Linked DNA regions of Homo sapiens: all the other regions are reported to be linked to region 4. The links are microRNA targets in miRTarBase. Many come from high-throughput screens and were not tested one by one. Region 4 holds a microRNA gene; each other region holds the end of a gene's coding sequence. Distances are from middle to middle.
The links. The annotated mature microRNA hsa-miR-3606-5p reads UUAGUGAAGGCUAUUUUAAUU and lies in region 4 at 2,689-2,709, shown strand. An mRNA with a match to its seed (bases 2 to 7 or 8) in the 3' UTR can be bound and repressed. Matches are read on the target gene's strand: a 7mer-m8 pairs with bases 2 to 8, a 7mer-A1 pairs with bases 2 to 7 and ends in A, and an 8mer does both.

Region 1 (4,000 bases), not on the chromosome of region 4:
CACTTGTTAGTGTGGAACATTGGCATCCTGTTTAATGTCTTTGAGCCTCAACCTAGCCATTTGAATATGGCAGTATTGAATAACTCTGTGTAGTTATTGTGCAAACTTAATGAAATGATCTCCTTCTTCATAAATTCCTTAAGTTATGAATTTCCTTCTGCCTAAAGGTGGAACTATATCAAGCACCTTGACTGAATCTTAGATATATTCCTGGGCTTTAAGATATTTAATGTAGTATATACTGGTTACAGATAAGTAAATTGAAACCAAGTCAAGTGATTTAACAATAATTATAATTATAATTAAGTATAATTAGTGAAAAACATGGAACTAAACAGGTCTCTATTCTTTTTACTGTTGTTTATGTATCCTTTGTTTAATTATAGATACATGTACATTTCTTAATTTGGTTTCAAGGATTCTTTTGTTCTTTGTAGGACTGACTGATTTTTTTACAGCTTTAATTTTAAATGCTCACATGACTTAACATTTGTTCTGGCTGAAAGGGCTATAATTGCTTTTTTCTTATTGTAACTGCCATTTAGGAACTTGCATTGTACTGTTGAAACTTTATTCAACCAAATTATAGCATGGGAAACTGGATTTTAGGTCTGGAAAAAAAGTCTGAAGGCTTGAAAGTATGATCACATCTTAATGACATAGAGTAAAATAAACTACTAAACTAAGGATATTTTATGTTTGCTCAATTTATGTTTTTTGTTTTAGATGGAAATAGAGAAGCTGAAAAAAGCTGTCCTGTCTTCTTGAGTGGTGTGGACCTGGTGTTCATAATGTTCCAGGGATTCAGAAGCAACGCTATGAACTTCAGCTGACTTGTTACTTAAAAATTGTGAATTCTGTTGTTGTGATAAATATGAGCAAATGAAGTGTAATATCTATAGAAAAGTAGAGTGAGGGTGAATTTATATATATATTTTGTTTTGCCAATATGAAGAAAAAGAGGCCTTATTTCTTAACTGTGCTGGGATTGCAAACACTTTTTAAAAAATTGTTTGCTTGAAAATACTACTGAATATAAATAAGAATGTGCACAGTAGTTTTTTTATTGAAACTTGTATTATTTTTAAAGAGATCTATACTATAAATATGGTGATATATTTACAAGTAATCTGTTAAGATATACTATTTGAGAGGGACAGATTAGCCTTTTAGTAACTATAGTCACTACTTTTTCCATAATGCATAAGGGATATAAACTCTGTGTGTGTGTGTGTGTGTGTGTGTGTGTGTGTGTGTGTGTGTATATATATATATATATTTTTACTTTTATCCTCTTACCGAAGGTTACACTGTTGTGCCTGTTTGTCTGCAATGCTGTTTATATTTTGGGTGATGAAATAGGAGTTTCCTAGCTATATAAACCAGATTACTCACCCATGCATATAGTAAGAACTAATGAATAATCAAAATAATTTCATCAACTTTTAGAATATTTTATGTTGCTTGCACTATAGGAGTCATAAAAGGAACTTAGTTAAAATATGTTGGATTGTTAAACATTTGGGGAAATATGAACTGTATTTTAAATTTGTTAGGTCTGAAGAATCTAAAACTGTTAATTTAACCCTTAACTTGTGCCTAGAAACTACAGCACATATAAAATATGTAAACACCAGCCTGTTGCTGTACTTTTCTGCTTATTTTACAGCCTCAAATATTTCTCATTATCTTGTCACTTAGTTCTTCATGTTTCTCCTTCTGACTTTTAATAATGGTAATAGGAAAACAAAACCCAAAGCTTTTCAGAACTTCAGTGTGAGGTTTCCTATTTTGACAAGTTAACTTGTAAATACTCAGGTTTTACGATGTATAATTTACCTAATAGACCAAACTAACTCATGGAGATATTTTGAACTATTATTTAGGTACAAACTTTATAAAGAATGTTAGTATGTCATAAAATATAACATTACAGCTTATTTAAAACCAAATATAGTTGAACATATTTAAAATACATTTTCACAGAATGGATGAATTAGTTGTTTCTTCAGAGTTACTTATGAACAGTTGAATGCTTTAAAATGTTCTGTCTGTAGGTAACATCTAAAACACAAGTGGGTTTATTTAAATTTTTAAAATTTGAAATTTTTTATTTGCAAAAAATTGTTTTATGCTTTATTATATCGCAAATGAGTGTCAGATTTTTGAGTACCAATGATCATGCTTCCATTTTTTTTAGTTTTAAACCACCAAACCAATATTTTTCCTTTAAATTTTAATCTTATAATATAGAAATCTTATGTAAATGAAATTTTGTCATGTTTCAAATAAAGAGAACTGAAGTAGAAAATAGAAATGCCAGTAAACAACATAATGTTTAATTTACAACTTACATTAGGGGTTTGGGGGAATGCTAATTATATATTGAGAATATACATTAGAACTCTTCAAAATGGGCTCTTCTAATGAGGTCACTACTGAACAAAATTGTTCCCTCTTCTGTTAAATAGAATAGGTTTAAATGACTAGTCAAATGAATTATTTTCTTCTTGTTAAATAAATTAAATCTTACTTTCTTTTAATGACCAACCTTAGGTAAAACAAAAATATTGTAATCCTAGAAATTATCCTCCAGCTTTCTCACCTGAAAATCTATTGAAGTGATCCCTGGTCATCCTAATAATGGGATGAGGGAAGTTTCCAGCAGATTTCAGGCTGTTCTTAAAGTTTTTGTTGGTCATTTTCTCAATAGTACATGAAATCAAGATGCTTATGAGCATGGAAATGTATTTAAAGTTTTTGCTTGTGTCCTCCTCAGTCAGAATAGAAAAGTAACTGAAATACTTTTACCTTTCTGTCCTTGATAAAATAGTAAAGAAAACCAAACAAACCCAGGCCTGATGGGAAAAATGATTCCTTTATTCTAGCAACTTACTTTCTGTTGGTATGGGAAATGTTATTAATTTCTATTACTAAAGTTCATATCACAAAATGATATTTAATAATAACCTTGGGGTAAATCATGAATTTTTTTTCTACGTGTGAGTATAAAAGACAAAAGTTGAACAGCATGGAATCTCATTGCCAAATTATTAGTGAATGTATAGTTCAGGTATTCTTTGAGACACACAGTATCATTAATTTCTGAATTGTATTTCAGTGTTATTTTTTGTTTGTGACCACTAAGCTTCTGTCTTAATACAAAGCTGTTACCTTCTACAGAATTTAAGTCTGAAGATGTAAAGAGAGAACAGGCCTTGTGTAACAGAAGATACTCTTTTTTATGCTCCTTACTGTGATCACAGAAAAATTAAAAATCCAAGTGCTCTCTAGATTTGTTGATAAACATTTTATGCTTGCATTTAAACTTGAAATGTATGAGCAGAATGAGACAATCAGTTAAATCAGAAATGAGAAGTATTATAATGTAAAGGCCTTGTTTTGCTGTAGCAATAAAATGACCAAGTGCAATGACTTGATTTAATAAAATCATATTTTAAAAGTTGCTGCTATGAATATTTTTGGCTATAAAATTTTACCCTGACTTGCTTTCAATAACTGTTACGTAATGCAGTTGATGTTGTAACCTAACATTCCAAAAAAAAAATTGAGAGGGGGAATCTCAAAATAGTATATACTTCACTAACTTGTTTACAGGTGCTGTATTTAAAAGCATGCTTCTCTCTCAAAAAGAAAAATTAAAGGATTTTATTGCCAGTCGTGTCAGTCTTTATTGGTTATTTTTTGTTAACTTTAGCATTTGTGTATTTCAGAGTATGATGAAAATTATATTACTTCAATTTCCAAATACAAGAATAAATAGTAAACCAAAAACATTAAAAATTCTAGACCCGTATGACTTTTACTGAACTTTTCTGAGTCTGGTTTTTCATCTGAAACTGAGACAGTAATTTCTACTTTACAGGATTATGGGGAGAATTTGAAATAGTTTATCTAAATGGCTTTGTAGAGTGCTTGGCATAGAGTAGGTTTTTTTTAAAAAAAAAATGGAGGCTGCTGTTTTACCTTTTTAAAAAGC
Region 2 (4,108 bases), not on the chromosome of region 4:
GGAGTAGCTGGAGTTACAGATGTGCACCACCACACCCAGCTAATGTTTGTTTTTTGTTTTTTTTGTTTTTTTTTAGTAGAGACAGGGTTTCGCCATATTGGCCAGGCTGGCCTGGAACTCCTGACCTTAAGTGTTTCGCCTGCCTTGGCCTCCCAAAGTGTTGGGATTTCAAGAGTGAGCCACTGTGCCCAGTCTGAAGGGGGGCTTCTCGGCTGTTGACTTATGCTGGAACTCAGTACAGAGACTATTTCATCTAATTAATATTCCTGTTTAAATTCTTTTAGACCAACCTTATACGGACAGTATGGGGTTGCATCGACATCTTAAATCAGTAATTGCTAAGCTCTAATCTGAATTTTTTTTGTTTTTACTTATAGCAAAAATATTTTGATTCTGGGGATTACAACATGGCTAAAGCAAAAATGAAGAACAAGCAACTTCCTACTGCAGCTCCGGATAAGACGGAGGTCACTGGTGACCACATTCCCACTCCGCAAGACCTTCCTCAACGGAAGCCGTCCCTTGTTGCTAGCAAGCTGGCTGGCTGATTAAGAGGCTGAACTGCATGAATCTGCTAAATCTCATTATTTCTCCTTAATATGTTACTTATCTACTTTTTATTTCCTTTCATTCACTAGTCATTTGAGACTGACAGCTTTGCAGGTAGCAGTAGTGTGTGCTGCTATTGTGGAATATACGTGTGTAGAGTTTTTGATTAGTTTAACAGTGCACTGGTGAAGAGGACATGTTAGAGCAACATAAGTAAACTACTTGAAAATAGTTGTATATATTACCTAACTTCTAGTGTAGTACTGGTTCTAACAAGTAACAAGCAAGTTTTAAAATTTTAATGTTTTGGCTTTCATTACTTCATCTTAATTATAGCTTTGTATGTTACTCTTATTTAATATAATCTCTATTGTATTGATTTCTTCTGTATTTACCTTTTGGATTTTGTAAAACAGAAGTTTAAGACCACAAGTTAGAAGAAAGGTCACATATTTCAAACACAACTAGATGGGGCTCTGAAAGATTTGTATCTCTGTGCTTGAACTTGAATGGCCTTAAACCTGTTTCAGCTTTAACAGTAGAATTTTACTTGGGCAATATTTGCCCATTCTGGTGTAACTTATGTGACTCTAGTGCTTAACAGCTGCCGTTGAAGCTAATATTCAGTTCTGTAGAGTTAGAATACCTTTTGTTGTTGAAGATGTGAATGAAGTATGCATGTGCATTAACTGTTGAATTCACTTTTGTGCCATTTTTGTAAATACAGTAGTTTTGCACAACCTCTCACAAATGTCTGTATTAATTTCACATACTTAAAAAGTAGATAATGTGCCAACCAGAAGCACAAGAGTTCCTACACAAAACTCTGTAAATCATTATAGCTTTTGTATAATAAGAGTAGTTTACAATCTCGGGCTTATAGAATACCAAACTGAAATCTTAGTTCAATCTGCCATAGACTTAAGCTTTTCATTTGTTACTAATATCCATGACATTCAGTGGCCTTGTGCAAATACGATATGTTGCTTAGGCATATCTTTTGTCCTATGCAGAACCTTTCATTTTGATTTTTATGAAAGTTGCAATTCATGTAATTTATATAAACTTTTTAAATGTAGAAACTTTTTACTTCCACACTCAGTTTTGGAGACCCTAGAATAAAAGGCTTCAATACTCTGCATTCCATGCCCTCTGCCACCTGCTTTTTTTTCCCCTTTGTTCTTTGACTCAAATGGTATTGAGCTGTTTGTTGTATATGGAAGCATAGGTGTCTATATCCTTACTCTTTTATATAACACAATAATGGCGTTTTCCTTCTAATTTCTCAGTTGTTAACTTCTTTCTCTTTTTTTTTTAGGATAGGGCCTTGCTCTGTCACCTGAGCTCTAGTGCAGTAGTGCAATCACAGCTCACTGCAACCTTACTCCTAGGCTCAAGTTAACTATTCTTGATCCTTTATTATTACTAATATTCTACAATTGTTTAAATAAAAGGAACTTTATAATGAAACGGTTCGGAATACTGGCTCAAGAACCTATGTCAAGATGAGCTGAATTTTGGTAAATTATTTTAGGAATTATGACAAGCTAATTGAATTAGGCTTGTGACAATTAGAGTAATTTACATGACAGGTAAAACTCCTATTAAAAATGTTTAGATGTTTGCTTCTGTAGATGTCACTTTAGTAAAATACCAATTTAGTTTTACTTGTGGCTTATCTAGTTAGAACTTAGCAGACTTTACTGGGACAAGTTTACTGCTCTTGTAGGAGCTCCTCTCACAAGTAGTTGTAATGCTGTAGCATGATACTCAGGATCAGTAGCTTGAGATGCTACTATTTTTCTCTTCATCTTTGACTTGCAGAGAGCCTCCCGTTTTTGGATCCAGGCATCTTTTCTGAATCCTGGTTCCATCAGTATACCTGCTCTCCTATGACCCCAAATCATAGTCAATGGTGCCTCAAACATAGCACCTTAAGTTAAAGGCTGCCTAGTGCTCTGAGGAAAGCTTGCTGATTATCTTCCTGATCTACTCACCCCAAAAGGCAGAAAAGCAACACAGTCACTGCTGTGGTCATTTGTAATGTAAAGATCAGTTATATATATATATTTGTAATGAGAGCAAGTATATACTCATTATAGAATCAATTTAAGAAGTTTAAAATAACCCAGAGTAGAATTTCTATATCTAGTCTTGGTTTTTTTCATGAATATTTGCAAGTAATTACCATTAAATTCACACATGAAAGATTAATCTGAAAGATCAGAGACCATGTTATTCCTGACCACGATAGAACTGCTCCTGTGGTTTGGGACAAGTAATAAAACAACTGCTTGAGTTTTGTTTGTAAAATACATAATTAATATTTGACCTACCTCAAAATGTATTGAGGATCTGTGAAATGCTAAGTGCCCAAAATAAAATATTGCTGATTGTCTTTTTATTAAAAGTAAATTTCCTCATTAAGCCAACCTGCCTTCTGTAAGTCACAGTGCTTAAATCTCAGGATTTTTCATTAGGAGAGACCTGTCGTTAAGGATTTGTAGGTATAATTGCTTAGCCTCCATTATTGGTGCTTGGGATAGAGAGGTTTTAGATTTTTGTTTTTTTTTTGTTCTGCCTCAAAGCTCAGTTTATTGAAGACATTTGTAAGCTATTGGATCATCACTTGAATCAAGATTTTGACTAGTGAGCTTAATTGTCCATTTCTTACAATTTCAAAGTTACAGTCTCAGAAATGGTTAATTTTAATAACTGTCCTATCATAAATTAATGTTGGAATAAATTGAAGTTGTTGATAAATACTTCATGAAAACTAAAGTCTGAAATAAATTACTTGTTTTATGTCCAATAGCTACTACATTTGATAGAACAGTTTTGAGGAACATTTCATTCTTGAACGCAGCATCTGACATGGTTCTCAGCAAGTTGGAATAGTAAGGATTATTGGCTTGTTTCGATGAGTGGAAGCGGCATGTTTGTAGCATACAAGTTATTCAATAATCTTGTGCTGATGACCTAAAAATATGTCTTAACTATTCATCAAGGAAAGCCTGGTGAAGCCTTTACTTGTTACTACTTCAACAGTTGGAATTAGTTGCTCTTTTTACTTGATGAAACAAAACTATACCTCTGAATATTTATGGATACTTTTTACTAAATCAGGCTTGTGTTCTTAATCCAAATTAGTAAAGTTTTATGGAAGCTGAAATGTAATACAGTAGTCTCCCCTTATCTGTAAGAGATACATTCCAAGACCCCTAGTGGATGCCTGAAACCTCAGATAGTACTGAACCCTTTATCAACTATGTTTTTTCAGTCTGACAACCAAGGCGGCTACTAAGTGACTAAGGGGCAGGTAGTATACAGTGTGGATAAGCAGGACAAAGGGGTGATTCACATCCCAGGCAGGACAGAGCAGGAGATCATGAGATTTCATCACTCAGGATGGCTTGTGATTTATTTTATTTTATTCTTTTTTTTTTTTGAGATGGAGTCTCACTCTTGCCCAGGCTGGAGTGCAGTGGTGCGATCTTGGCTCACTGCAACCTCTGCCTCCTGGGTTCAAGCAGTTCTCCTGCCTCAGCCTCCCAAGTAG
Region 3 (4,108 bases), not on the chromosome of region 4:
AAGGTCAAACATGCCCATTGGTAACATTTTCACATCCTTGCCCTACAGCAGGATCTCTAGTTTGTTGCCCAGAGATCTCTCTCATCTCTGAATTTCTAGTTCACAGAAACAAGAAATACCCTTAAGAGTCCATGTTAAGAATATTTTATTTGTTTTTTGAGATTACATAGTCATTATTGCTGATCTAATACAATCACTTAGACATAAAGATTTCCAAGAACTTCTCAGAAATGGTGATCTTTAGAAGTGTTATTCCTTTCAGTAAGATGACAGAACTAGATGATTACGTATATAGATATATAGATATATATATATATATGTATATATAGAGTTTAGAACCTGTCCACATATAATTTGCTGGTGTTGCCTATTTTCCTTCCGTAATTTTCCTTTATTGAAAAAGCTTAATGCAACAATGCATTTTGATTCCTTTTTAAAAACCACGGCAAAGTTAATTTTGAGAAAACCACAGGAGCAGCAATATCAGATCTGTTTAGAGAAAAGCGAAGCAGCATAAAAGCTTTGCAGGAGTATGTGGCCATGGGGAGCCGTGCTCATATGGGCAAGTAGGATAGGGAGGGAGGAGAGCAGAGGGAAGGTAGAGTAGATACATTTTTTTTCTTTGTTTAAATGAAAAAAAGAAAACTGAATATCTCCATTAAGAAGGCAAAAAAGTGCCAGGCACGGTAGCACACACCTGTGGTTCCAGCTACTCAGGAAGCTGAGGCAGGAGGATTGCTTGAGCCCAGGAGTTTGAGACCAGCCTGGGCAACATAGTGAAACCCTGTCTCTAAGGGTGAAAAGAAAAGAAAGAAAGAAGGCAAAATATTAGCACAGATTCATTGTAGAGAAAATGTTATGTATCCTCACAGACTGGAGCCACATACAAAGAGATAAGTAGCCTTCTTTCCCATGCTTCCAGATAACCAGGATGCATCTAAGGTAAGAGGTTGGAGGAAAGAAGACACATTGCTCTGATTCCAAGGGTAGAGGGAATAATGACCAGATTTCAACCCTAAGATAGAACCCAAATACTTGGGAGGCTTGTGGTTCTTTCTTCTTAATGGTTGATAACACAGTGTCCCTACAGAGAGGTCATCTGAAACTCAGAGGCAAATAACTCATCATGGGCAGCAACACTGGCAACCTAACTTAGAAGCCCCGTGTGGCCCCTTTTTTATTTGGAGTGGGTCTCTTCACTACAGCAAGGCAGAATGTACTCTTTAAGTACCAGCACATAGTAAGCTCCAGAGAGCAAGGCTTTGCTGAGAAACAGCAGGTTATGATTTTTGGTCTAAGAATACAATAGGCTAGAGACCATCTATCTGCCAAATGGAATCTGCTCTGGATATAAGATAAGGTACAAAGATCTGAATCCCTTGCTAAAGGGAACCAATTAATACAAAAATCAGGACTAGGTAGGCAAAAGGAAGAACTGAATGGCTTAGTGGAATTTTTAGCATTTATGATCTTCCTTACAAAAAAAGAATATAACCAGTACTTGCTGAGACATATGGCCTCTGAAGAACTGTAGTCTATGGGCTGAGCCTGTATACTATTAAATGAGGCAAACAGTCATTTACCAAAGTTCCACTTCCCTACTTCCGAAAGTAAGGTCACTTTCAGACTAGCTTTGAGAGTATATGTGAAGACCAGGAGAAGTTGGAGAGGGTAGAGGTAGAAGAAGAGAATCAGGATGGGAAGGTTTTGGTGATCATGCGTGGTCTGGTGTTATCTTGAGTCACCTTGGTCTTGAGACTTTGAGGCAGACCAGCATAGGAAAAAAGTGGGAAACAAACAAACCTGAGAGTGTTAAAAAGGATCGGTAAGGGGAAGAGGCTTATTTAATTCAAGTTTCCTAGGGCCAGTCCAGACTAACTCTTAGAACCAATCTGGTCCTAATGAAATGCCTGAGACCAACAGATCAGTCTCCAAAAGGAATCCAATTTTTGGGTGGGACATAAAATGTCACGCTGCCCACACCACATTACTAATTCTTTTTGTAGCACTGGAGTTACTCAAGAAACTGACTCTGAAATACAGAATCATCAAATGGAAGAGGTTAAATCATAAAAGATATGCCAGCAGAGAAGTCCACAGATCAGACTGCAGATCTCGGTTTCATCCATGGCAATGGCCAAAGGAATGAATGTCTGACGAGGTTCAAACTAGTCAAATTAGCTTTGATAATCTGGATACAGTTTACAATTTCATCTCTGTATCCCTCAGCCAGTCAAACTGCAATGGCCTTCCTGGGAAACAAATAAATATACTCTGCTTTGTTAGGGTATCAAGCTGTGAGTCTGAAAGACCTGTCCCATTTCCAAAGCCTATCCCCCTAAGTCCCTGGAAAAGTATGCCTTTCCCTACTCAGTTTCAGACGTAGCTTTAGGCAATAGCAGGAAGTTTCAGGAAGCAGTGTTTCACAACAAGCTCTCCTTTTCTGAGATAGTGCCAATCTGGAGGGGCTTCCTTGGAAACTATCCAATCAAATGACAAGGAAGTAAAACTATGGGTCCCAGTGGAGCTGGCCCCACTTCCTGAGCAGACGTTGGCTGGATTAGAAAGACAGCAGAACAAATGTCTGACAAATACCAAAACTGTGGAGGAAATAATGGAGGCACATCCCTCTTGCAACCAGGAAGTGTTAAAATGGACATAAATATTCAAGGAGAAGAAAGGAGTCCTGGGTAAGAAAGGAGACCCCTGGTAGGCACAGCACAGCTGAGTTCTTGATGTAGCTTGGCAAAGCCATAAATAACACTCCTTCCTTATTAGCCTTTATATAAAGAAGGCAGTGATAGTGATGGTCAAGATTGGGAACCCAATCTTGTGTGAAACACTGGCCATGTTAATTCCAAACGGCCTCACCCGGGGAAGGGCCAAGCTGAGAAAAGCAGGTGCTGAAAATTTATTCCAGAAAACTCCAGGGAATAGGGAGTATGGAATCCCTGGACTAACTCGTGAGCCTGGACAAGAGGAAAAACGGCCACTGCTGAGGATTCAGTCAATGGGGAATGATGCAAATGATGCACTGGGAGCAGTAACCCCATTTCTTTCCTTCCTCAGCCCATCCTCTGTGGCTTTCATGGCCCTCAGGGCAGTAACCACACTCTGGGCCAACACTACAGGCACAGGATTCTTGATTTTAATAAATAAATAACCTAACACACAGGGTGAGCACGGCAGGCAGCTTTGATTGGAGAAGCAGCTTGCTGAATTCTTTCTTGTATAGTAGTGGAGAAAAGGCTTGGAGTTCTATTCCTTAAAAATTCTGGTTTGAGTTACAGGAACTTAATACCTGGAGGGAAAAAGAAAGATGAGACTGTGATGTTATCAGCTAATGGGGATGCTGGGACATGAAGAGCCTGCCTAAAGGTGTAACAGGGAGGCAGAGACTTTTCTGGAGTGTACAGTGACAGGAAATAACTGTGTTTCCTTTTCACATCATTGAAAAAGGCCAATATTTCTCCATAAAGAGATAAAAATCATAGCAACAAGATGAAATGGGGAAAGGAATTGAGGAAGGGGAACTTTATTTAATGAGGCAAATAGCCACTTACCCAAACTCCACCTCTCTATCTCCAAAAGGCAAATTCAGGAAGGGGAATACTATTTAAGGCCTTGAAGAGTCTTTTGAAGGTGGCAGTGAGGGGAAGTGGGTTCATTTTTCTGAGTTCATGTAAGCATATGTGGTTGGGGATGCAAAGACCAATTCCAGTGCAGGAAGCTCATCACTGCCCAGGTGTCCCTGATTTCTGGGGAGCCCAAGGCACCTGTAGTAATTAGGCTTGAAGGGCCCATTCTTGTTGAGTCCCAGATACTTGGCCTGTTCATCTGTCAGCTCTGTCAAGTGGGCATCAAAGGTAGGCAGGTGTAGGCTGGCCACATACTCATCTGGAACAGACCACAGAAGCCCTGGTATAAGCATTCATGCCTTTTATCTGATGGCTATTGTCCCCAAGCTAGGCCTTAAAAAGTTCAAAGACACCTTCTAATTCCTGGAGCTGAATGAAAAATGTTCAACCTTCGCTCACTGGTCCTCAATTCTAAGGAATAGCTGCCTTCAGCTTCAAGCCCAGTGCTTTCCAAAGCCTTAATAATTCAT
Region 4 (4,106 bases):
ATAGAAGGGTATAAAAATATCTTGGAGGCAAGAGAAAAGCATTAGATTGCTTCTTGCAACTGATTTTTTTAATCAGTCAAATGGATAGCTTTTATCTATACATGTCTTTAAAGCCCTATTCTTGATTCTAAAAGAGGTGTTGTCCCTAGTATTCAACTATCTTGATATTTCTTCTGCTACCTTCTTTTTTTCCCCAGACTCTTTCTAGGAAACTGATAATGCAATCACACACACATAGTTACATTTTTCTCTGCCTTTACGATTAATGATTCCTTGCTTTACCTGCAGTATAGAGTCCCACTACTCCAACTTTTGGGAGATGTGTTTAAACAGGACTGAAGGGTGAAGTGGCTAAGTGAGTAGAAGTGGTAAGAGAAACTGACTACACAAGGTTTTACCATTAGGGTGAAGTTGGACCTGCAGGGTCTCCTGGTTCAAATGGTGCCCCTGGACAAAGAGGAGAACCTGGACCTCAGGGACACGCTGGTGCTCAAGGTCCTCCTGTAAGTATCATAGTTGAGAGGGAGTAAGCATAGTTTCATGCTTACTCCATGAAAGCATAGTTTCATGCTTACTCCATGAAAGCATGTGCTTCAATATGGCTATCAGTGAAAATTACTTTGAAAAAATTGTTGCTTAGTGCTCTAAAATGATCCTCCTGTGACACATACTGATTTGATTAGTAGTAAAAATGATAGTTTTTGACTGTTGCACTATTCCAGAATTCATGATTTTTTATGTTTATATAAAAGAATAGAGGATAGACTAGTTTTCTGATGCTTTCAAGAATGTGCCCCAAGCTAATCACCAATCATAAAAATTCAGAGAAGAACCAAATTCAAAATCTCTTCTATTTATGTATCATTTAATAATTTATACGAAGTACATATTATCTCTAATTTATTTAGATAATGATGATTCTTTTGACCACATTTCATATGTTGTGTTATAGTTGGAGGATTCACTTAATCTCTACAAAGCATAACACTCATCGATACATTTATTTTCACACAAACAACTTCAAATATATACGAACTATTTGCATTACTATTAATACATTATCTGTTTTTTGTATACTTAGGGCCCTCCTGGGATTAATGGTAGTCCTGGTGGTAAAGGCGAAATGGTAAGCTGTCCCCACTCCTCAGCCTTATCTCATCCACACATTACTGGCTTCTTTTGCATTTTGCATGACAATAGATTTGTGATATTTAAGTGAGATATTCATAAAAGAACATTCAAGTTCGGCTAATATAGTGTCTTTGGTTTGTTCTTAGGGTCCCGCTGGCATTCCTGGAGCTCCTGGACTGATGGGAGCCCGGGGTCCTCCAGGACCAGCCGGTGCTAATGGTGCTCCTGGACTGCGAGGTGGTGCAGTAAGTTGCCTTGTTTTTTCTCTGTTGACTGAAAGGTATAGTTTAATTCCATCAACAAAAAATTAATAGCAAAATTTTGCTCCTGTTCAGTTGAATTTATATTGACTTCACTCTTGTCTTATAACTTATAACTGAATTATGTGTTACTGGTGATGATTTGTTAGTCGAATCCTCCCTGTGTTTCAACCAAGACTTTGTTATACTTTAGGGTGAGCCTGGTAAGAATGGTGCCAAAGGAGAGCCCGGACCACGTGGTGAACGCGTAAGTTTTACTGCAACAGATCTGGTTATTTCTTGAAAAAATGCAACATAATTAGAAAGTAAACAGGTAAAAACTTTGAACTAAATTCAGTCATAATTTCTTTATTTTACCATCTTTTTTTTTTTTCAGGGTGAGGCTGGTATTCCAGGTGTTCCAGGAGCTAAAGGCGAAGATGGCAAGGATGGATCACCTGGAGAACCTGGTGCAAATGGGCTTCCAGGAGCTGCAGGAGAAAGGGTACGTTTTCCATGGGGCATCTAAAAGAAAAGCAGCATCACTGTCATCTAAATAAAACTACCTTCAGGGTGAGACAGCCAATTTTTCTTAAGTTGAGTGTTCAGTGAAAATATTGTTTAAAGCATTCTATGACATAAAAATATTTGCCACTCAAGAATTATGAAAAAGAATTGAAATCCTTTGGACTGAAATACTTGTCTTTCATTATTTTCAGGGTGCCCCTGGGTTCCGAGGACCTGCTGGACCAAATGGCATCCCAGGAGAAAAGGTAGATAACTTTAGTTTCTATGTTCCTAAATGCTAGCACCACAAATGGGCAGTTCTTGTATACAATTTCTCATTCATGAAAACCTAAATATCTGAAGAATATATATTAGAGTTAAGAAAAATTCCTAATATAATGCATCCTCTGTTCAACAACTTTCCTGGCTTTGTAACTAAAGCCACTTACTTACCCTCTATGAGAATCCTTTACTTATCTGTTAATTGGAAAGCATTTATCTGAGCATCGTTGCAAGAGTACAGTAAACTAAAATGCCTGAAAAGTCTTTGAAAACTCTAAGGTTACATCAAATATGATTTCATAGCATTAAGATATTTGATTTTAGCTGCACATAATTATATTTTTAAGCACAGTGAATACTGTTTTATTAAGCATGTGATGTTCACAAAGTTGCTTTAAAATTTTTTCAATATGGCAATCCAAGCTAAGATAACTGATTTTATGTATAAATGTTTCAGCAACACACGAACCCTTTTTAAAAGTTCAAATGACGTCCTCTCTTTGTAACCAAAATATTGTTGCTATCTAGGTTAGTGAAGGCTATTTTAATTTTTTTAAAATTTCTTTCACTACTTAGGGTCCTGCTGGAGAGCGTGGTGCTCCAGGCCCTGCAGGGCCCAGAGGAGCTGCTGGAGAACCTGGCAGAGATGGCGTCCCTGGAGGTCCAGGAATGAGGGTACAGAGAAACATTTGTTTGAATGACACTTTAATTTAGACAGAAGAAAGGCAAGACAAATGAAGACAGATCAAAAGCAACTTAAATCAATCAGATTACATATTTTGTAAGGCACCAAACAAAACAAAATTCTTTTAAGTAAACTTAAGCCGAGATAGTTCAAGGAGAAGAGAAGATAGAACACTTGCCTTAGATACTTTATAGACAGGAAAAAAGATGTGCAAATCTGAGGCTTCACATGTAAGTGAAAATATCAAAATCATACAAATAGTGTATGTAGTAATTTTTTATTATTTCATTTTAAATCACCTAACAACTGACTTCTTTACTTCAGGGCATGCCCGGAAGTCCAGGAGGACCAGGAAGTGATGGGAAACCAGGGCCTCCCGTATGTACATTTTTAAAATCTCATTTTAAAAGGCCAGTTAAAATGGAATGTATATGTTGGCCTATCCTTGAGTGTGTGTGTGTGTGTGTGTGTATATATATATATGTATATGTATATCTATATATATACACACACACACACACACACACATACTATATATATAGCATGCTTTAATCTTCTCTTTATCAAACCTTTATTAATGTAATTTTTTCTTATTAGGGAAGTCAAGGAGAAAGTGGTCGACCAGGTCCTCCTGGGCCATCTGGTCCCCGAGGTCAGCCTGGTGTCATGGGCTTCCCCGGTCCTAAAGGAAATGATGTGAGTTCCTTCATTAATTTCTTCAATAAATATTTGACTGGAAGGCTTTTATTTTCCATATGGAGTAAAGAAATGGTCAAAACTCAGTCTCCTCTTCAAAGCATGGAGGAGTATATGAAAATCAAATTGCATGTAGGAAGGGAGCTAAATATATAATTGGTTATGGTTGTATGTGTGTGTATGGAGCAGGCAGATAAAAAATATGAAACAGGCTGGGTGCGCTGGCTCACGCCTGTAATCCCAGCACTCTGGGAGGCCAAGGCAGGCAGATCACCTGAGGTCAGGAGTTCTAGGCCAGCCTTGCCAACATGGTGAAACCCTGTCTCCACTAAAAATACAAAAATTAGCCAGGCATGGTGGCATGTGCCTGTAATCCTAGCTACCCAGGAGGCTGAGGCAAGAGAATCACTAGAACCCGGGGGGCAGAGGCTACAGTGAGCCAAGATTGCGCCACTGCACTCCAGCCTGGGCGACAGAGCAAGACTCAGTCTCAAAAATATGTATGTGTGTGTGTGTATATATATATATGAGACATATATATATGAGACATATATATATGAGACATA
Region 5 (4,108 bases), not on the chromosome of region 4:
AGGAAAACTACATCTCAGCAGACAGGTAATTTGCCCGAGACTAAACAGCCAAGAGGTAAATAGAGTAGCCCCTCTTTCTAGGTAATCCACCCTGGCTCCACTGCCACCGGAAACTAAAATCAGTATCTCTGGGATAGGCTACACTGTTACAAGGTATTAGGTTAACCAAATCCAATTGCCAATATTCGACCTGACAGCTAGGCGTGGTCAGCCACTAGCCTCCCCATAGAGCAAGGCTTACCTCATGGCAGGCTCCTGGCTCCAATACTCAGCTGCCAAACATGATGCTGATTCTTCACGAATTTGCAACCTAGGTGAATATAGCAATTAGGTCACCGTTCAAACAAGTTTACTCCTGGGAACCAGCAAGTGGTGAAGACTTGACTGCAATCAGACAGGAGTAGTCTTCGTCAGTTATCGCTTCTGACGGCACTTCCTATTAGTGATTTCATCAGAGCAGTCAAGCACCTCACAACCCTCCAGTACTGTTCCAACCGCAGATCTAGACCCTACCTGAAACTTAAGCTAACCCTGCTACTGGAGACATTTCTTAACGAAGGAGTTTGTTTCTGCATTATCAGTTTGCTTTAAATGCAGTTCTAGGTTAGGACTGTGGCTGAAGCAGCCATCTCCAGTTTCTATTTAAGTTCCACCCTATGCAATGACATGATAACGTTACCCTAAAGTGTATAAAACACCTAAACGTAGAAAACTGTCAAAACGCCAATTTCCGTGCATTCAAGTGACAAAACTACGTTCCATGTTAAACCCTACACCAGAGAGCCTCTCACCTCGTGGCTACCCCGTCTTCAGCACTCTGCAGTGGGTACGCAATCTTAAAGAGGGAGTAAGGACAGGAATTCAGGGCAGGGCTCTGGCAGTTACGGTCAACTAAGTTGTAGAGGTTTCAGCGACTGCGGTCAGATAGACATTAGACGTCGTCAGTTATCGCTTCTGACGGCACTTCCTATTACAAGTATCATCAGGACAGTCGAATAAGTCTTCCAGTAATACTGTTACAATCTTACCGACGTACACCGCCCTCGGGGTACCCCAAACTGCAAGCCGACCCCAACTTACCCAGTTCTCTCGGGTTTGCACACCCCCACTGTGGGCCGGGGAACCGGGTCCCGGCCTTCGCAGACTCCAGGCTCTGGCAGATGTGGCCCTACCACAAAAGAGTGATCCATGAGCCTCAGCCACGGCAGCCGGATTCGGCCCCGCGCTGCCCTGCCAGGCTGTCCAATACCGGGCCGCAGCGCCCGCCGCGAAAGCCACGCGGGCGCAGGAGCCGGGGAGCCACGCCATCTCAACAGCTGCCCTCCGCCCTCTAGACAGGCTTCCCGGGAACATCTCCCCAGAGACCACAGAAGCTCGAGCTCTTTATTTGCTCTTGCCCCCCAGCTACTACTCCCAGATTCCTAGAGAGCCTACCTCCATAACAACGGGAATGAAAAGGTCACACCTTATGTGCGCCAGGCCCTTAAGGAGTCGGAATATCCCAATCCTCACAAAAGGAGGGGGACGCTGGCAAAGACTCATGGGAACTTTCCGCCAAGTAACGATTTAGACCGGCGCGCTACCCAGGACTCCCCCTCCTGTTGAGTCTATGGTCTCTTCCACAGCCCCGGGAATTCTGGGTCACAACACGCGCGGGGAGTTCCAGGGCGCCTGCGCGAGGGCTGGATCGCGCGTTTGGGCCCCACCTCCGCCACTCCTTAGCTGGGTGGTCTTGGGCCAATTACTCATTCTCTTTAAGCTTCCGATTGGTCCTCTAGTAAACGGAGACACCAGCGCCCCAGAAGATCACGTGAGATGACACACGTGAAAGCCTGTAGAGCTGTGGCACAAGGCAGCCATTCATCCTAGTAGCTCCTCCTGAATCTATTGAGCGTTGCCAAATACTCTCCCCACAGCTATTTCACCACATCCACGGGGCTTCTCAAACCCCTGCGCACTGGTCACCCTCATTACTCCTTTAGCACGACCTTTAGGGAACGAGCTGACGTCTTATCTAGATCCACGTCCATCCTCTGCTCGCCTCTGGGGTAAAGCTCTGCCCACCTCCTTTCCTCTCCTCATTCCTTGGGGCCTCCTCCACCTATGCCCCTGCCTCACCTTCCATGGAAAACTCTCTCTACTGTGGCTTTCCTTTCAGCCTATGAACATGCTCAGCTCTCTCCTTGAAAAAGAATCCATGCAACCACGTTTTGCACACACACGTTATACCAAGGGAAAGAAATTCATTTTGACTGCAAAAAACTGGGAAGACAATCATAAGACCTTTTGAGCTGGCCTCAGAAATAAGTGTAGGGTTTTTGTTGTTGTTGTTGTTGTTGCTCGTTTTTGTGTTTTTTTGAGACGGAATTTCGCTCCTGTTGCCCAGGCTGGACTGCAATGGCGCGATCTCCGCTCACCGCAACCTCTGCCTCCCGGGTTCAAGCGATTCTTCTGCCTCAGCCTCCCGAGTAGCTGGGATTACAGGCATGCGCCACCACGCCCGGCTAATTTTGTATTTTTAGTAGAGACGGGGTTTCTCCATGTTGGTCAGGCTGGTTTCGAACTCCTGAACTCAGGTGATCCGCCCGCCTGGGCCTCCCAGAGTGCTGGGATTACAGGCGCCCGGCAAGTGTAGGGTTTTATTTTATTATTATACTTTAAGTTCTAGGGTACATGTGCACAACGTGCAGGTTTGTTACATATGTATACATGTGCCATGTTGGTATGCTGCACCCATTAACTCATCATTTACATTAGGTATATCTCCTAATGCTATCCCTCCCCCCACCCCCAAGTGTAGGGTTTTAATGGAGGAGGGGGGCTTCCAGCAAGAGCCAGGTCAAGGGATCAAGCACGAGGTCTCTCGGCCTGCATGAATTTGGGGAGAGTGCTAAGGAGGGAGGGGCAACAGAGGTGGAGGGGAGGAGGTGTCTGGAACTGCTTGGGCAAAACCGTGGGGGTCTCGGGATGTCAGCTAGGGCATTCTGTGGGTACTGGGGAGCCTCTCAGGCCTTCAGAGCACAAAGAGGACATGTTTGTCTTATGTCTTAGGAAGGCCCTCTGGCTGCCCTGCAGAGAATGGCTTGGGAGGGGTGGGAATTGAGCAAGAAGCTCGGTAGGAAGAGAAAGCAAGAGAGGTGGCTTTAATGGGTTTTCCCAGGTACCTGCCCAAAAGCAGGGTGGGTGTGGAAAGCAAAGGGTGTCGTGGTGGAGAGAGAGGAGAGGTGGCTGTTTGCCCATGTCCATCACCATATATCTGCCACAACAATGGGCACAGCACCTCAGCCAGCTGCCTGTACCCAGGAAGAGGACAGTCCCCAGACTTGGGGATGTGGGGGTGAGGGTGGGGACACAGCAACTGAGGGTCTCTGTGCCCAGGCAAGGGCAGGAGCAACCTAGTCCCATACACAGACCTGTGCACACAGAGACATGCAGACATTGCCAGCTCTAAGGGTCCCAGCAACTCTGCCCAAATAATGTTTCCAGAAGAGTTAGTTAGTGAAAATATATATTTGCCACCAGAATTCACTGGGACCCCAGAGCCAGCAGATGTGGTTGGAAAGATCCTCTGCTCTGTCCTCTGGCCTCCTGCTGCATCTGGGCCATCAGTTGGACTGGAGGAGCTGGACGGGCACATAGTTTTCCTCAGAGGCACCATCCTCATCCTCCTTGGGAGGGGAAGCCAGGACAGGGTTCTCGAGAGTTCCTGTAAACAGATGGCAAGCACTGTAGCTTAACCCTTGAGTGTGTCCCCAGGAAGCAGGCACCAGGGAAACGGGGCCACAGTCATGAAAACACGTCATGCCGTGGGGACAGCCTCAGCGATCCTGGAGGCCAGCAATCCTTCTCCCTGCTTCCCTCACTCCACAAGCATTTCCCAATCCCCTGCCATATCAGGGGCTTCCCCCTGCCCCTGCCACCCCCAGGAGCTTAAAGTGCCTGGAGGTGACAGACTTGTGTGTCAGAGATCAGAACACCTGAGACATGCTGGGGGAGCTCAGAGGAGAGAGGGGACCTGTCCTGCAGGGGCGGTGGCAGATTTGGACATCCAGAGGGGAGGAAGAGCACTTCCGACAGAGACGAATCCAGAGATGAACCAAGGAAAGCA
Region 6 (4,100 bases), 42 Mb from region 4:
AGGGAAAAGGAAGACATTATTAAATGGCCTTAAACATTTCTGTACTATCATAAGGTTACTCAGAAAATGCTGTGCATAAAAATCACACAAGTAGAATTTTTAAAAGTTAAATTAATCCATAAGCTTTTGATCAGAAATTAGATTTCAGTGTAGTAGTATTTTGACTTGTCTTCCAGATAAAGATAAATAATTAAATTATCAAGGAACATAAGCAACTCAAGTAGATTAATTCTCACTTAACATTTGGGATAACCTAAAATGAGGCCCCAGATTATCTGCAACACTGGGTGTCTCAGCTCATTGCATAACTGCTATATTGTTTTTTTCTTTGCTTTTTTAGGAAGATAAATTCACCAGACTGGGAATTCAAGTACAGGACATCTTTGAGAAGAATTTCAGAAACATTTTTGCAATTCAGGAAACAAGCAAGAACATTATAATGTTTATTTAGCCATTCTTATCTCCTCCCTTCAGATCCTCTGGCAGCTAGCTACGCAATGTGCCTGTGGTCCCACTAATCTGTGACTGCTCCTGTGGAAACTCCACATCACAATTCTCCAAAATTTATCATTGCCATTTTAAAACCGTCTTTTCAGCTTTCAATAAAATTCAACACCCCTTCATGTTAAAAATTCTCAATAAGCTAGGTATTGAGGAACATATCCCAAAATAATAAGAGCCATTTATGACAAACCCACAGACAACATTATATGGAATGCGCAAAAGAAGCATTCCCCTTGAAAACAAGCACAAGACAAGGATTCCCTCTCTCACCACTCCTATTCAACAAAGTATTGGAAGTCCTGGTCAGAGCAGTCAGGAAGCAGAAAAAAATAAAGGGTATCTAAATAGGCAAAGAGGAAGTCAAACTATCCCTGTTTGCACACAACATTGATTCTATATCTAGAAAACCCCCTAGTCTCAGCCCAGAAGCTCCTTCTGCTGATAAACAATTTCAGAGATGTTTCAGAATACAAAATTAGTATATGAAAATTACTAGTATTCCTATACACCAGCAATAGCCAAGCCAAGAGCCAAATCAGGAAGGCAATCTCATTCACAATTGCCACTAAAAGAATAAAATACCTAGGAATACAGCTAATCAGGGAGGTGAGAGAGTTCTACAATGAGAATTACGAAACACTGCTCAAAGAGATTGGAGATGACACAAACAAATGGAAAAACATCCCATGCTCCTGTGTAGAAACAGTCAATATCATTAAAATGACCATACTGCCCAAAGCAGTTTACAGGTTCAATGTTATTCCTATCAAACCACCAATGACATTCTTCACAGAACTAGATAAAACTATTTTAAAATTCATACAGAACCAAAAAAGAGCCCAAATAGCCAAGGCAATCCTAAGCAAAAAGAACAAAGCTGAAGGCATCACGTTACCCCACTTCAAACTATATTACAGGGCTTCAGTAACCAAAACAGCATGGTACTGGTACCAAAAAAAAAGCCACATAGACCAATGGAACAGAACGAAGAGCACAGAATAAGACCACACTCCTATGACCATCTGATCGTCGATAAAAACAAGCAATGGGAAAAAGACTCCCTATTTTATAAATGGTGCTGGGATAACTGGGATAGAAGATTGAAGCTAGACCTCTTCCTTACACCATATACAAAAATCAACTCAAGATCAATTAAAGACTTAATGTAAAATCAAAAACTATGAAGACTCTGGAAGACAACCTAGGCAATACCATCCTGGACATAGGAACAGGCAAAGATTTCATGATAAAGACAAAAGCAATAGCAACAAAAGCAAAATTTGACAAATGGGATCTAATTAAACTTAAGAGATTCTGCACAGCAAAAGAAACAATCAACAGAGTAAACAGACAACCTACAAAATGGGAGAAAATATTTGCACACTATGCATCTGACAAAGGTCTAATAGCCAGCTTCTATAGGGAACTTAAACAAATTTACAAGACAAAAAGAAATAACCCCATTAAAAAGTGGGCAAAGGACATGAAAGACACTTTTTTTTTTTAAGATGGAGTTTCACTCTTGTTGCCCAGGCCAGAGTGCAATGGCGTGATCTTGGCTCACCACAACCTCTGCCTCCCGGGTTCAAGCAATTCTCCTGCCTCAGCCTCCCAGGTGGCTGGGATTACAGGCATGCACCACCTGACTGATTTTGTATTTTAGTAGAGACGGGGTTTCTCCACATTGGTCAGGCTGGTCTTGAACTCCCGACCTCAGGTGATCCACCCACCTCGGCCTCCCAAAGTGCTGGGATTACAGGCATCAGCCACCATGCCCGGATGAAAAGACACTTTCCAAAAGAAGATACACATGCGGCCAACAAGCATGTTTTAAAAGCTCAATATCACTGATCGTTAGAGACATGCAAATTAAAACTACAATGAGACACCATCTCACACCAGTCAAAATGCCTCTTTCTAAAAAGTCAAAAAATAACAGCTAGTAAGGTTGTGGAGAAAAGGGAACATTTATACACTATTGATGGGAGTGTAAATTAGTTCAACCACTGTGGAAAGCAGTGTGGCAACTCCTCATAGTGCTAAAAGCAGAACTGCCATTCCACCCAGCAATCCCATTACTGGGTACATACCCAGAGGAATATAAATCATTCTACCATAAAGACACATGCATGCAAATGTCCACTGCAGCACTATTCACAATAGCAAAGATACAGAATCAACCTAAGTGCCCATCAGTAACAGATTGGATAAAGAAAATATGGTACACATACACCATGGAATAGTATGCAGCCATAAGAAACAATGAGATCATGTCTCAGGAACATGGATAGAGCTGGAGGCTATTATCCTTAGCAAACTAATTCAGGAACAGAAAACCAAATACCACAGGTTCTCAGTTGTGAGTGGGAGCTAAATGATGAGAACTCATGAACACAATGAAGGGAACAGACACTAGGGTCTACTTGAGGGTGGAGGATGGGAAGAGGGAGAGGAGCAGAAAAAGTACCTATTGGTGATGAAGTACTCTGTACAACAAACCCGTGACAAGAGTTTCCCTATATAACAAACCTTCACATATACCCCTGAACCTAAAAGTTTTTTTAATTGTAAATAAATGGATCATTAAAAAAAATTTTAATAATAAAATTGTCTTATCAAGTTCTCTTATTGAATAATTTGGAACGAAACTTACAACTGATAACATAAAGTCTTTCTATAAAGGATCATATTATATCTTCCCAATTATTCAGTTTTGTATTTTTTGTTGTTGCCGTGAAAGCAATCTTTTCCCATTGAATTTTATTACTGATTATTGCCTATTACACAAAGCTACTGTTATTTATACGTAATTTTGTCACTGATTACCATACTGAATACTAGATGGTATCATTTTCACCTTTTACCCAGTGGCATCAGGAAGCCTGTGGTGGCTACATAGCACCTCCAACTTTCAATTCATGGAATCGTATTCGGTTTAGGGGATGGAAGCATTCCTCCATTGAGCACTAAAATCTCGGACAATTCTTTTTTTTTTTTTTGAGATGGAGTCTCACTCTGTAGCCCAGGCTGGAGGGCAGTGGCACAATCTCAGCTCACTGCAAGCTCTGCCTCCTGGGTTCACGCCATTCTCCTGCCTCAGCCTCCCAAGTAGCTGGGACTACAGGTGCCTGCCACCACGGCCGGCTAATTTTTTGTATATTTAGTAGAGACGGGGTTTCACCATGTTGGCCAGGATGGTCTCGATCTCTTGACCTCGTGATCCACCCACCTCGGCCTCCCAAAGTGCTGGGATTACAGGCGTGAGCCACCACGCGTGGCCAGACAATTCTTGGTTCTGTTGGAAAATGATTCTGCCAGGGCACCCTGGTGTATTTGCATGTGTAAAAGAGGAAAAAATAATTTTCCCACTACCCTTCTAAGTTTCCCCTACCCAGATCCTCTGGGGCCCCTGTAACAAAAGACAGATTAACAAGAGAAAAACAGAAGTTTATTAGCATATATATATATATATATACACACACACACACACACATATATGTATACACACATGTATATACATACATATATGTATACACATATGTATATGCATATATGTGTGTGTGTATATATGAGAGATACTCAGAGAGATGAATAAC

Region 1: miRTarBase lists CD2AP as a target of hsa-miR-3606-5p. Seed matches in the 3' UTR shown: 8mer at 3,600-3,607.
Region 2: miRTarBase lists ARPP19 as a target of hsa-miR-3606-5p. Seed matches in the 3' UTR shown: 7mer-m8 at 631-637.
Region 3: miRTarBase lists AHCYL2 as a target of hsa-miR-3606-5p. Seed matches in the 3' UTR shown: 7mer-m8 at 775-781.
Region 5: the mRNA of TRPV2 is a reported target of hsa-miR-3606-5p. Seed matches in the 3' UTR shown: 8mer at 3,496-3,503.
Region 6: the mRNA of SP100 is a reported target of hsa-miR-3606-5p. The part of its 3' UTR that is shown has no 7-base or 8-base seed match.

Annotation. Positions count from the first base shown.
Region 1 is chr6:47,623,460-47,627,459 of GRCh38, forward strand. CD2AP (CD2 associated protein) reads left to right here. Exons shown (of 18, transcript NM_012120.3): 18 at 727-3,804. The coding sequence ends at 768. Among named protein-coding and RNA genes, the nearest start is that of ADGRF4, 73 kb to the right of the region's middle.
Region 2 is chr15:52,548,374-52,552,481 of GRCh38, reverse strand. It overlaps ARPP19 (cAMP regulated phosphoprotein 19), which reads left to right. Exons shown (of 3, transcript NM_006628.6): 3 at 378-4,108. The coding sequence ends at 548. Among named protein-coding and RNA genes, the nearest start is that of ARPP19, 19 kb to the left of the region's middle.
Region 3 is chr7:129,426,232-129,430,339 of GRCh38, reverse strand. AHCYL2 (adenosylhomocysteinase like 2) reads right to left here. Exons shown (of 17, transcript NM_015328.4): 16 at 3,777-3,897; 17 at 129-3,301. The coding sequence ends at 3,295. Among named protein-coding and RNA genes, the nearest start is that of STRIP2, 6.1 kb to the left of the region's middle.
Region 4 is chr2:188,992,957-188,997,062 of GRCh38, forward strand. MIR3606 (microRNA 3606) reads left to right here and starts at 2,674; the gene lies at 2,674-2,736. It overlaps COL3A1 (collagen type III alpha 1 chain), which reads left to right. Exons shown (of 51, transcript NM_000090.4): 16 at 405-503; 17 at 1,082-1,126; 18 at 1,278-1,376; 19 at 1,585-1,638; 20 at 1,768-1,875; 21 at 2,090-2,143; 22 at 2,736-2,834; 23 at 3,169-3,222; 24 at 3,442-3,540.
Region 5 is chr17:16,436,387-16,440,494 of GRCh38, reverse strand. It overlaps TRPV2 (transient receptor potential cation channel subfamily V member 2), which reads right to left. Exons shown (of 15, transcript NM_016113.5): 15 at 3,492-3,706. The coding sequence ends at 3,606. It overlaps SNHG29 (small nucleolar RNA host gene 29), which reads right to left and starts at 1,508. Exons shown (of 4, transcript NR_045025.1): 1 at 1,435-1,508; 2 at 242-310. SNORD49B (small nucleolar RNA, C/D box 49B) reads right to left here and starts at 986; the gene lies at 939-986. It overlaps SNORD49A (small nucleolar RNA, C/D box 49A), which reads right to left and starts at 459; the gene lies at 389-459. RefSeq lists enhancers at 303-1,204, 1,510-1,839, 1,900-2,089, 1,205-2,104, 2,105-3,006 and 1 more.
Region 6 is chr2:230,542,496-230,546,595 of GRCh38, forward strand. It overlaps SP100 (SP100 nuclear antigen), which reads left to right. Exons shown (of 29, transcript NM_001080391.2): 29 at 341-3,111. The coding sequence ends at 451. Among named protein-coding and RNA genes, the nearest start is that of SP100, 130 kb to the left of the region's middle.